Linked DNA regions of Homo sapiens. The protein of the gene in region 1 interacts with the protein of each later gene in a pairwise test. Each region holds a gene or a part of one and is shown in the gene's direction. Other genes may lie near its edges. The genes, in order: QKI, ALG13 and PSMF1.

Region 1 (3,655 bases):
TTGGGGAATGGCCAGTAATACAGCATGGAGTAAATCTGAGCCTATCGTGGGAAGTGAATGAACACGGCACTTCAGATTAGTGTGGATAGATGTGAATGGGTGCATGTGCAGCAGCCAGTCTCTGTCAAAGCACAAGTAAGCCATGACTGTGTTTCAGAGATTTCCTACAAAGCCTCAAATTCTAAAAATCCACGCTGATTCAGAAAATTCATTCAGGATGAGTAATAGCTGAGACATTAATTGTGGACAGATTTGCAGCAGGGAGGTATGAACCCCAGTTTGGACATGTGGAGTTCAGACTGCTTTAGAGATTGAAGTATACATTTCTAGTTGGCAGTTGAATTTGGAGGTCTAGAAATCAGGGGGCAGTACTGTGCTGGAAAATGTAAATTTGGGATTATATTGATGCAAAACTGTGTTCTTCTATGTTGCTGAAGATTTAGTAGCACATATATTATGAAATGATATTGCAAATGGTAACTGTAAAACAGACATTATAGTAGTCATGAGCTATTTTTTTCCACATCAGTATCTCAGCTATTAACCCCTGAAAGATTGTTTGAAACATAATTGTAAAAAGAAACGAATGCCTCGTAGAACACAGTTTCTAATAAATACAGCATTTTTGGTGTGCGTCCATATCATCATCCCTCCTGTCTGCTTATTTCAACCTTTTCTTTGTCCTGATGTATTTAAGTGAGAAAATGGGTTTTGTGAGTGGATTCTTACTATGGATATTTTAAGTTCAGAAGTAACCATCCTATAATTGCATCTATCCTTAATGACTAAAAGAGGACCTTTTGGGGTGTGTTTTATTGATTTCTCTATAAAATTTGCCAATCCCAGATTGCCTTTATAATCTGCTTAAGAAACAGAATGAGATCACAGGGAGAAATAGTATTTGTATTAAATAATTACTAAGCTGCAAACTCACTGAAGGAATTTAACTCTTCTTGAGCTGGAATGGACTACAGTAGAATGAATATGGCTTCATGGCTTCTGCGTAGCATGACCTCAAAGCCTTTTTTTGTGTGACATTTGATATGCACATGGATGAAAGATTTTCTGAGGCCTGATGTGGAAAACGGGTTGGTCGGTCTCTCTCTTCACACTGCACCCCCTCCAAAACACTAAAAGAGGTGCTTTTAGTGTTTACTTTCAATTGCTACATTGTTTGATTTTGAAGTGTCCGCTTCATTTATTCCTTGTGGTGAAAACTCAGTGGGTCCTTTTCATCTGGAACCTCAGATCCCTCAGTTTTGCGAAAAATATATAACATTGATGATTTTTCTCCCTCTGCTTTCTTTTTCTTTATATTGGTAGTTGGACATCGTCATTTCAGTTTCTGAACCTCTTGGACTAGTCCTCTAATATTATACAGTTCTGCACCATTTTTTTTTATCTCTGTCTTTTGCTACTTGGAGAGTTCCTCAGTTTGTCTTCCAACCTTCTATCAAATTTTTCATCTTTGCTCTCATGTTTTTAGTTGCAGGAGTTTCTATTTGTATTCAAAATTTTTAAATAGAGCATTCTTGTTTCAGCATTGTAGCGTCTTTTATTAACTCTCTGAAGGGTCAGTTGTTCAAGTCTCCTGTCCCCAAGATGTGGGCCTGGGTTCCCTTGCTCTGCATTTGGAGCAGGGGAGATGGCCGGCCAGCCCAGCTGTCAGAGTGGAAGTTACCCTGTCAACTGTTCTCCTAATGCAGTTTGAGCAAGTGTTTTACTTCCTTTCAGAATCAGTTTCTGGTCTACTGCTGGGAATTAGGGAGTGCTTGATAGCTAGCCATTTGTGGACAGGGGATATGGGAATTGAACTGCTTTTTAATGAGAGTTCATCTAGTCCTGCAATCTCAGCCCCACCCTCACCCCTGTTTTCACTGCTGCCCATTTCCTCAGTATTTTTGGGGTGGATTGCAAGGAAATAAGTTTCTTTCTTAACTAGAGTCAGGTAAATTTTAAGTTAACCATCTGCTTTCTAGATTCTTAATTTTTAAATGGTTTCCTTTCCCATTTTCTTACTTCTTACGAGTTTGGACATTTTATTTATTTATTTATAATAGACACAGGGTCTGACTGTTCCCCAGGCTGGCCTTGAACTCCTGGGCTCAAGCAGTCTTCCTGCCTCGGCCCCCCCAAAGTGCTGGGATTACAGGCATGAGCCACTGTGCCCGGCTGAGTTTGTACATTTTAAACTCTGCAGTGTTGTAGAAGAATTTTTGGTGGGAGTGTAAGTACACCATTCCATTAATTTCTCCATCTTTGAAAATTTTTGCTCCTTCAATTGTTTTTAAAAGTGTAAGCAAAAATGTTGATTTTGAAGCAAACAGGGTAGATGTAGCTTTCTCCTATTTTTATATTTTTAACTATCATTTAAGTTGTTGAATTAGTAAGAGTACGCATTGGCCAAGTGTTTTACACCTTAAAAATGTATTCTTGCAATAAAGCAAAATGGCAAATAATACTGCAACTTTGTTTCTATCATGAAAATAATTATTCCTTTTAAATTCTCTGGCTTTTCTCCATGTATAGAGGTTTCTGCGGCAAGTCAAATTTTAGTTTTTATTCTTAAGCTTTTCTCAAAAATATTTGATTATAAATGTTCCTCAGTTTTCATTGTATTAGTATCTATATGCATTAGTGTTTGACACACACACATAGAGCTTTTAATGTCTTTGTCTATTTATAATAACATCTGTATCACTTCTAGATTGGTTTGAGTGAATTGATTGGGGGGGAGGTGGTCTCATGTATTGCATTTTTCTTGCTGCTTTGCATGCCCGTTAATTTCTAATTGTATGCCAGACTTTTACCTTGTTGGGTGGATATTTTTATATTCCTATAAATATCTTTGAGCTTTGTCCTGGGACACAGTTAAGTTAGTTGGAAATAATTTAAGGCATTTGGTCTTACTTTTAAAATGTATTTAGTTGTACTGGAACAATGCTTAGATTAGGTTTAGTTTTTTCCTACCACTGAGGCAAGACCTTTCTGTGTCCCTTACCCGTGGGGAATCCTTCAAGTCTTTCAGTCTTGTTCTTTTCTAGAGCCAGGCACTTTGACCTGGAATCCTTTTGGGTGGTTCCTTCCCTGGCCTCTGGAATTTTCTCTCAAGTATGCAACGATCAGGGTTCAGCTGAATATTTGAGTGGCAGCTCTCCCAGGACTCTCTGAGCTTTGGCTGCCTCGGTTTCCCTGGACTCTTGCTTAGTCTCCTCATGGAGTTGTCTGGAGACTCTCAAGCCAGTGAGTGGGGGCAGTTATAGGCTCACCTCAGTTGTTCCCAACTCTGTGTCATTTGTCCTTAGTTGTCTGATGTCCAGTGGCTTGAAACTTGTTGATACGTTTTGCCAGTTTTTTGGTTGTTTCAGCAGGAAGGTGAATCTGGTTCCTGTTACTATATCTTGCCTGGAAACAGAAGTCCCTCATATATATGCGTTTAGTCAAATAGGTGCACTTTTAGGCCCACCAAATAATACCAGACTAGTAGCTTTTGTAGGTCTCTCTCCAAAAAAAAAAAGATAAATAAAAAATACAAATTTTGGTGAGAAAATACTGTTAGCATTCTTGAACATAACAATTGAAATCTGGATAACAAAACTAATTTTTCTTGCCACAGTTAGAGATATTAATACATATTTTATTTCTTGCCATACAG
Region 2 (3,655 bases), on another chromosome or scaffold:
TCTTTGCTCCCACCTTAAATCTGGAGGAGTTTCATGCGTGTGTGTTTGATAAGTGGTGTGTTTAAGAATCAAATTTAGTTTAGAACTGCGGGTTTATATTTGGTGGAAAACTGTCCGATTGAGTATTGACTTTCTCTGCATTTCAGTGGTACAGAAATCTTAAAAGTACTTCAGTCTACTGAGCCATCCTTTGAGGACACACTCATTTTACATGTATTACTTACATGAAACAGATTGAAAAACAGATGAGGCATACATGTTCCCTTAATGTCCACCTAAGGAAACAGTGGATTATACTCATACTTTATAGACACCATTGAGTATTTAGTATGTGTAAAGCACTATGCTAAGTTACTTTCACTTCCATTAACCATCCTCAAAAGGCCTATGAGCTAGGTACTGTTACTCCATTTTACAGTGAAGAATTGAGGCACAGAGATTAAATAACTTGCCTAAAGTCATGTAGTTAATCAGAATTCAAATCTAGGCAGTCCTCACTCCAGAGCCTATGTGCTTAATCACCACACTGTAGCCTCACTGGAAAAATTGGACACAACTGAGTTTTCACTTCTGCCTGACCTCTAAGAGCTAAGTGGATTTTCAGAGGAGAAATTTGTACAGCTTACAGCTAGTCTGTGGCTTCAATATCTGTTGACTAGTGTGAAAGCTCATATCACTTTTCAGGATGTATGCATTTTAGTTTTGAACATATAACCATAAAACTGGTGGAAAAAGCAAGTGCTGGCCATTTGGCTCTGCTGAGCTAAAAAGACCTATATAAACACATTTCTTCTGTCTTGTCTTTTTTCCCCAGGGCGATATCATGAAGAATATCTTTATCGTGCAGGTCAGTAAGATCTAGAAGTGATCTGGCATTCATCATTGTTTATAGAATTTCAAGCTATAAAATAATGCTCATTTTTTACTTTGGCTATATTCTCTAGAGCCAGACTATGAAACTTCAGGTGTTTATAGCACAACTGCATCTACAGCAAACTTGGTAGGTATTTAATAATAGCAAAGAGTTATAGCTCCTACTATGTACTAGGGCACTGTTAAGAGCTATACATATAAATGTATTTAAATCAGAACAACCCTGTGAGGCTTAGTATCATTCTCATTTTGAAGATGAAATTGAGACAGAAATTAACTCGTGTTCTGGAACTAATATATTTAGAGATATTCTAACATAGGCAGTAATGATCTTTTAGAAGGTTTTATTATGATTTTTTTATTAGAATGGATGATACATCTCACTCAATATAACAAAAGTTTGCTTCTCCTTTATGCTACATGTCTAGTAGAGGTCTGTAGAAGGGCTTGCTCAGGTACTTAGGCTGATGGAAATTCATCCACAATTGCCAAGGCAGGAAATAAAATTCGGTAAATGGTGCACTGGCTCTTAGAGTTTCCACTAGAGGTGATACATGTCACTTTCTTTTCCATTTCACTGGCCAGAGCAGGTCCCACTGAAGAGTCTTAACTTTTCTGTGCTGGAAGGCAAAAAGAAACATGTTAACAGCGCTAAGAACTATATCATTCAACTTGCCCTCCCTCTCATAGGCAGAATACTTGTTTCTGTCTCAAAGGAGGCATCCTAAAATGTCCCATTCAGTGTAATCAAACTCAAAGCCTAGGATTTCTGGGCTATGTGTAGTACTTGTTATATTGGGTCCAGATGTAGCTTCTTGTGATCTTGAGACTTAAAACCAAAAATACAGAGGTTTTATTTTTTCCCCCTCCCTCCCCAGTTTACAGTGCTGAAGCAGGGACTGAAATTTCTATTCATAAAGGGAGAAAAAAACAGTTATTGGCCTGTAGCAATTCTGAGACCTTCATGGGCAGACGTTGTAAGGGCCCCCAACATACTCATGGGACTCTTCCCTGGAGGAACTCTCGTTCATTTTCTGGGGCTCTTGGTTACTCCCAAGGCCCATCCTTCCTTGGCAGTGTTTGGAGTAGGCATTGGAGAATAATCCTTCCTTGGCAACCGAGCAGCTTTCTAAGCTTGCTACTTACAGAAGATTGGAGGCCCAAGGGTGGTTTTATCTCAGTTGAATGGTTTTAGTTCTGGCTCGTGATTTCTTTGGCTGTAAGATTAATTTATTCTGCTTCTGTTTGATTTCTTTTGGTTTCATGTACCAATAGCCATACTACAGTTCTTTTCTATAGATATACTACTAAGATTTGCTATAATTCTTTGTGGTTTTATCCTTATATTTCTGTCTATTTGATTGCAAGTGGCTTGAGTTTATCAGGCACTGATGGAAGAGCCATGCATTTTGGACATTTTTCTACAAGCCATTTTGTTGAAGTGCAAGGATTTACTAGGTGTTACATCCTTAGTTGAACTCTAGCTTTGAGACATCTTAATACACTCGGGTTTTAACCAAAGAGTTCATTCTTGCTGCGAGGTCGAGTTTTCACTGTTTGTCGTTGTTCAAACCATTCATCAATATTACCTTTTATAGTTTAGGGTTGAAACAGTTGTTCCTTCAACCCTGTGAGTCCCTGTATGCAAGGAATCTATTCCCTTTCATTCCTGCCTGCAAACTACTAATTCTCTCCTACATACACCTGTCTTAAAATAACTTGCTTTAGACAATGCCAACAGTTATCAAAGCACAATACTAACATCATGTCTTCTAAATTGCTTACCCTAAGAGCTACATGTTCATAATCTCCTTCTCAATTAGGATTTTGTTATAGCCGTACCCTACTTCTAGTTACCAATTTCTGTTTTAGTCAAGCTAGGTTATGCTGCAGTTAACAACCCCCCAAAATCTCAGTGGCTTAACTCAGGAAAAGTTGTTCTTGCTAATGTTATATAGTTCAATGCGAGTTGGCAGCAGGCTGCCAGACTATGACTGTTCTTCATAGTCACCCAGGGACCCAGGCTGATGGACACATGCCATCATGATCATCACAGCAGGGCAAAAGATACAGAAATTGAACACTGACATTTCTGGTCATATTTTATTGACCAAGTAACATGGTCATTCTTGACTTTGGATGGAGCTGGGAAGGGCAATCCTACCATCTATTCAGGAAATCTGGAATATTTATGAAGAACTTGAATAACTACCTTATATTCTCTAATTATGACTAAACTGTGGCAGCTTCATGTACTAAATTTTTGTTTTTACTGTTTAGACAATATACCTTAGGAAGGAGAAGAAAACTCTGATACGTAATTCTCTTTCTGTTCTTTCTCCTTCCCTTACTTTGCTCCTTCCAGAGAAAGTTTTTTCCCCCATTTCCTGCCACCATTACTATTCTCATATCATGTGCTTTTGATATCACCTCTTGAAGTAGCCAAGTAAGAATCTTACCACAAGGGATGACAAGAATACTTTTTTTCTGTTCCTTCAATTTCACTTGTCACATGTTCCTTTTTGTTCTGAATTTAAACAACCTCAATAGCTTTCAATCTCTTCATATGTTCCAAGCCCTCTGCCCCCATCACCAAATCCATAGCAAATTTCTATTGTTGCTAAAATAAAGGATAAATGTCTTCAGAATTATCAGCATACATTAAAAAAAAACTCTTTGTCTTTAATTTTTAATTTCAATAGGTTTTTTGGAGAACAGGTGGTGGTTGGTTACAATGAATAAGTTCTTTAGTGATGACTTCTGAGATTTCAGTGCACCCATC
Region 3 (3,655 bases), on another chromosome or scaffold:
GCCTGGGGCCAGCCAACTCAGCTGACTCAATTGTGTTTTCCAAGCTCAGAGGATATTTGTGTTGCCTCTCCAGCCATCTGCTGTTTCCACCCTTCTGGGGGTGATAAGAAGGAGAGGAAGGTCCCAAGAGTGTATGCTTGACTATACAAGTTGACAGTTAAATGGAAAGCTAGATTGTCTGCTTTCTCTTAGGTTTTGCTTCCTCTGTTACAGGGGAATTGTGTACATAAAACTTGATTAGAAAACCAGTGCAGCCACTGGCTTCAACAAAAATCCAATACTTGAATTTGGATTTCTTTCTTGAAGTCAGAACCACTCCTCACAAGAACTTTACAGCTTTGTCAAGTGGTTTGGGTGCCAAGGGGATAGGTAAGGGATGACTTAGGTGGTTATCGACATAAGTTAGAGAATTTTGTTTTCTGTTGTGGGAAATCTAAGGATTATGATGAAAGAGAGAAAATGCCCAAAATGATCTGTTTAAGTTTCTTTGGGTGAATTTTAGTTCAGAGGCATTGGGGCAAATTCATGGCCATTAAAGAATGCTTCCAGTGCCAGGATTTTGCCTAAGAAGACAATTATCTTTATTCTCTTAGGGCCAGTCTTGTGGACCTGGCTGGGAAAAACCTTCTCTAGCCATAGCCTGGGCAATCAGGAGCTCTGAATTCCAAGCACAGCCCTACACCTGACTTGCTGAGACCTTGGGCAGCTCTCTGACCATCTCAGGCCTTAGAGTTTTCTTTTCTTTTTCTTTTTCTTTTCTTTTTTTTTTTTTTTTTTTTAATCCGAGATGTCTCACTCTGTCACTCAGGCTAGAGTGCAGTGGTGCTATCTTGGCTCACTGTAACCTCTGCCTCCTGGGTTCAGGCAATTCTGCCCCAGCATCCTCAGTAGCTGGGATTACAGGTCCCCGCCACCATGCCTGGCTAATTTTTTTTGTATTTTTAGTAGAGACAGGGTTTCACCATGTTTGCCAGGCTGGTCTCGAACTCCTGAATGCAAGTGATCTGCCTGCCTCTGCCTCCCAAAGGGCTGGGATTACAGGCAAGAGCCACCGCGCTCAGCCTCAGGCCTTTGATTTTTCATCAGAGGAAGTTAAACCACGTGACTGTGTACTTAGGCTACTTTCCAACTGTGGCTTTCTGGGACTCTTGATATTTGATGTCAGGGTTTACAGGGCAGTTGCAGACCATGTTTGGCCTGATATCGCCAGGGTCTGTCCTCTGTTTACTGGGGAACATCAATTGCACTGCAGTTAGAGATATCAGTTTCACCTGACTTCAGGGATTTTCTGTAACTCTGGAAGCCAAAGGTGATGGGGTGGTGAGCAGACCAAATTGTTTATATTCCAAGAGAGAACTCTGGTGGATTGAATGCTGTACATGGAGGATATAATATAAATTTAAAGGCGTTTGCCAGAGCAAAGATGAGGATGTCATCAAATTCCTGGCTTCCAAAGTAAACAAATCCACGACACTAAACACTAAACATATTCGGGAAATTTACCCAGTTTGGGGTGAGGGGATAGTTTCTTTTTCGCAGAAGAATGGTTTGATTAGTTTTACTTTTGTTTTTCCTCACTCTCATTTCTATGCTTCAGGCCTATGAATTTCATTGTCATCCAGCCAGGTTTTAAACCATGACAGTTGCGACATCCTGAATTTTATTTGGGATCTCTTTCCCCAGAGGATTTCTGAGCACCAGGGGTGACGAAACAGGAGAGGCCAGCAATTCTCAATGTGTGGTCTCCCCTTGTCCTTGGTGTGTGAAGTTTTGCTTTGCTGGACCTTTGTCTTTTCCATTTTCTTCATCTCCGGTCCCACTCCCTCCCGCTGTATTCTCATGACTACAGATCTTCCCAGTCCACCTGCCCCATGGTGAGCAATATAAATATACATCCATGAAAAAAGATTATAGCATTTTTTTGTGCTTTTTAAAATTTTTACATAAGTGGTACTGGAGTGTAAACCTCATTTTTTGGGGAACTTTTCTTTAAATCATATTTTTTCTTTTATATATAATACTATCATTAGATCTGGTTTATTCCTTCTGACTGCTATATAGTATTCCACTATAAGCATATTTTGCATTTTATCTCCACTTTTGCTACCTTAGCCAAGGCTATAATGAAGATCCTTTGTTATGTACCCTGTGCACAGGGTTTCTTCTGGGAGTAGGGATTTTGGATCATAGGATATTGGCTCATCTAATTGCACTAAAAACTGTCAGATTGCTCCCCGAAGGGGCTGTGCAAGTTTAAATGCCCACCAGCAGGGACTGGAGGTTCCCATTCTCCCCACACCTACACAGACATCTGGCAAAAAATAGAAAACTGGGTAATAACAGTCCGAATCATGTAACTTAGTGTCTCATTATTTCAGTTCTGCTTCTCTGATTGCTAGTAAAATTGAATAACTCTTTAGACACTATTAGCCGCTCTTTTTCTTGTTCATATCTTTTGCCACTTTTTGGAGTTCCCAATTGTTATTGTTCATTTTCCAGGCATTCCCTTTATGTAGAGGTTATTAATTTCTTTCCTTTGCAGCCATGGCAAATGTCTCTTCCTAGCCTGTGGCTCCTTATTAATTTAGTAGTGTCTCTGTAGAACAGAAGCTTTCAATTATGAACAGTGTCAAAGGCAGCATTTTCTTTTATGGATCTTGTTTAAGAAATCTTCCCCACCTAGAAATCACTATATTATTTTTCCTGTAGAAATAATTTGAGAACTATTTCTCAAACTTTAGTATGGAAAGTCTTAGGATTTTTAAAAAAGAAAAGAGGAAGACATCACAACTCACAATAAAAGATGTATTTTACACCCACCAGGCTGACAAGCATGAAAATGGCAAGCATTTTACCCCTACTAGATTGGCAAGCAATAATAGCAATGTTGCCAACTACACGGAGCAACAGGAGCTTTCATACATTGCTAGTGGGAGTATAAATCAGTAACTCTTTAGAAAACAACTTGACTTTATCTTATAAATTAAAAGCTTTTCCTCCATGCATACTGTATAGAAATTTATCCACGTGTACCAGATGTGTACAAGAATGTTCATAGCAGCATTGTTTATAATAGCAAAACAAATAAGCTGGAAATACTCCAAATCACCATCAACAAGTAGATGTATAAATTGCAGCATAGTCATACAGAATGCTGTGTAGCTGTGAATGTGAATCAGCTGTAGTTAAATGCATTGACATGGATACATTTCCAAAAACTATCAAATAAAAAAGGCAAATGACGGAAGTGATGCTGTGTATTTAAAATTCAAAAACATTTGAAGCTATATTTTTATGGTTGCATGTATAGTAATATAACTCTAAGGAAAAGTAAAGAAATTGTTTAAGAGTGGTGATTACCCTTGAAGGGGAAGGAGGGACATTTATTGGAGTATGCTACCCAAGGCTTTAGCAGTATTGCTGATGTTCTATTTCTTAAGCTGGTGGTAGAGACATTTTATAATTCTTTGTTATTTGTACATGTGCTACATTTTGTGTATTATGAAATTATAATTTTTGTACATCACTGCAGTCAGTTAGCGTGTATTCGGATCTGTGTTTTTAGTCAACACCTTGGTAATCCTATTGAAGTTAGCCTAACGTCCAAACTTTGAAAAACACTACTTAGAACTTCGCAGTGTTCCTCAAGATGACT

What was found.
Region 2: the proteins of QKI (region 1) and ALG13 interact in a two-hybrid assay, tested with the Homo sapiens proteins (one large-scale study listed by BioGRID).
Region 3: the proteins of QKI (region 1) and PSMF1 interact in a two-hybrid assay, tested with the Homo sapiens proteins (one large-scale study listed by BioGRID and IntAct).

The regions. Positions count from the first base shown.
Region 1 is NC_000006.12:163,529,632-163,533,286, forward strand, and holds part of QKI (KH domain-containing RNA-binding protein QKI), read left to right. Parts: intron 1-3,655. UniProt on the Homo sapiens protein: RNA reader protein, which recognizes and binds specific RNAs, thereby regulating RNA metabolic processes, such as pre-mRNA splicing, circular RNA (circRNA) formation, mRNA export, mRNA stability and/or translation.
Region 2 is NC_000023.11:111,729,581-111,733,235, forward strand, and holds part of ALG13 (UDP-N-acetylglucosamine transferase subunit ALG13), read left to right. Parts: intron 1-814; coding exon 815-847; intron 848-944; coding exon 945-1,000; intron 1,001-3,655. UniProt on the Homo sapiens protein: Catalytic subunit of the UDP-N-acetylglucosamine transferase complex that operates in the biosynthetic pathway of dolichol-linked oligosaccharides, the glycan precursors employed in protein asparagine (N)-glycosylation.
Region 3 is NC_000020.11:1,121,537-1,125,191, forward strand, and holds part of PSMF1 (proteasome inhibitor PI31 subunit), read left to right. Parts: intron 1-3,655. UniProt on the Homo sapiens protein: Plays an important role in control of proteasome function. Inhibits the hydrolysis of protein and peptide substrates by the 20S proteasome. Also inhibits the activation of the proteasome by the proteasome regulatory proteins PA700 and PA28.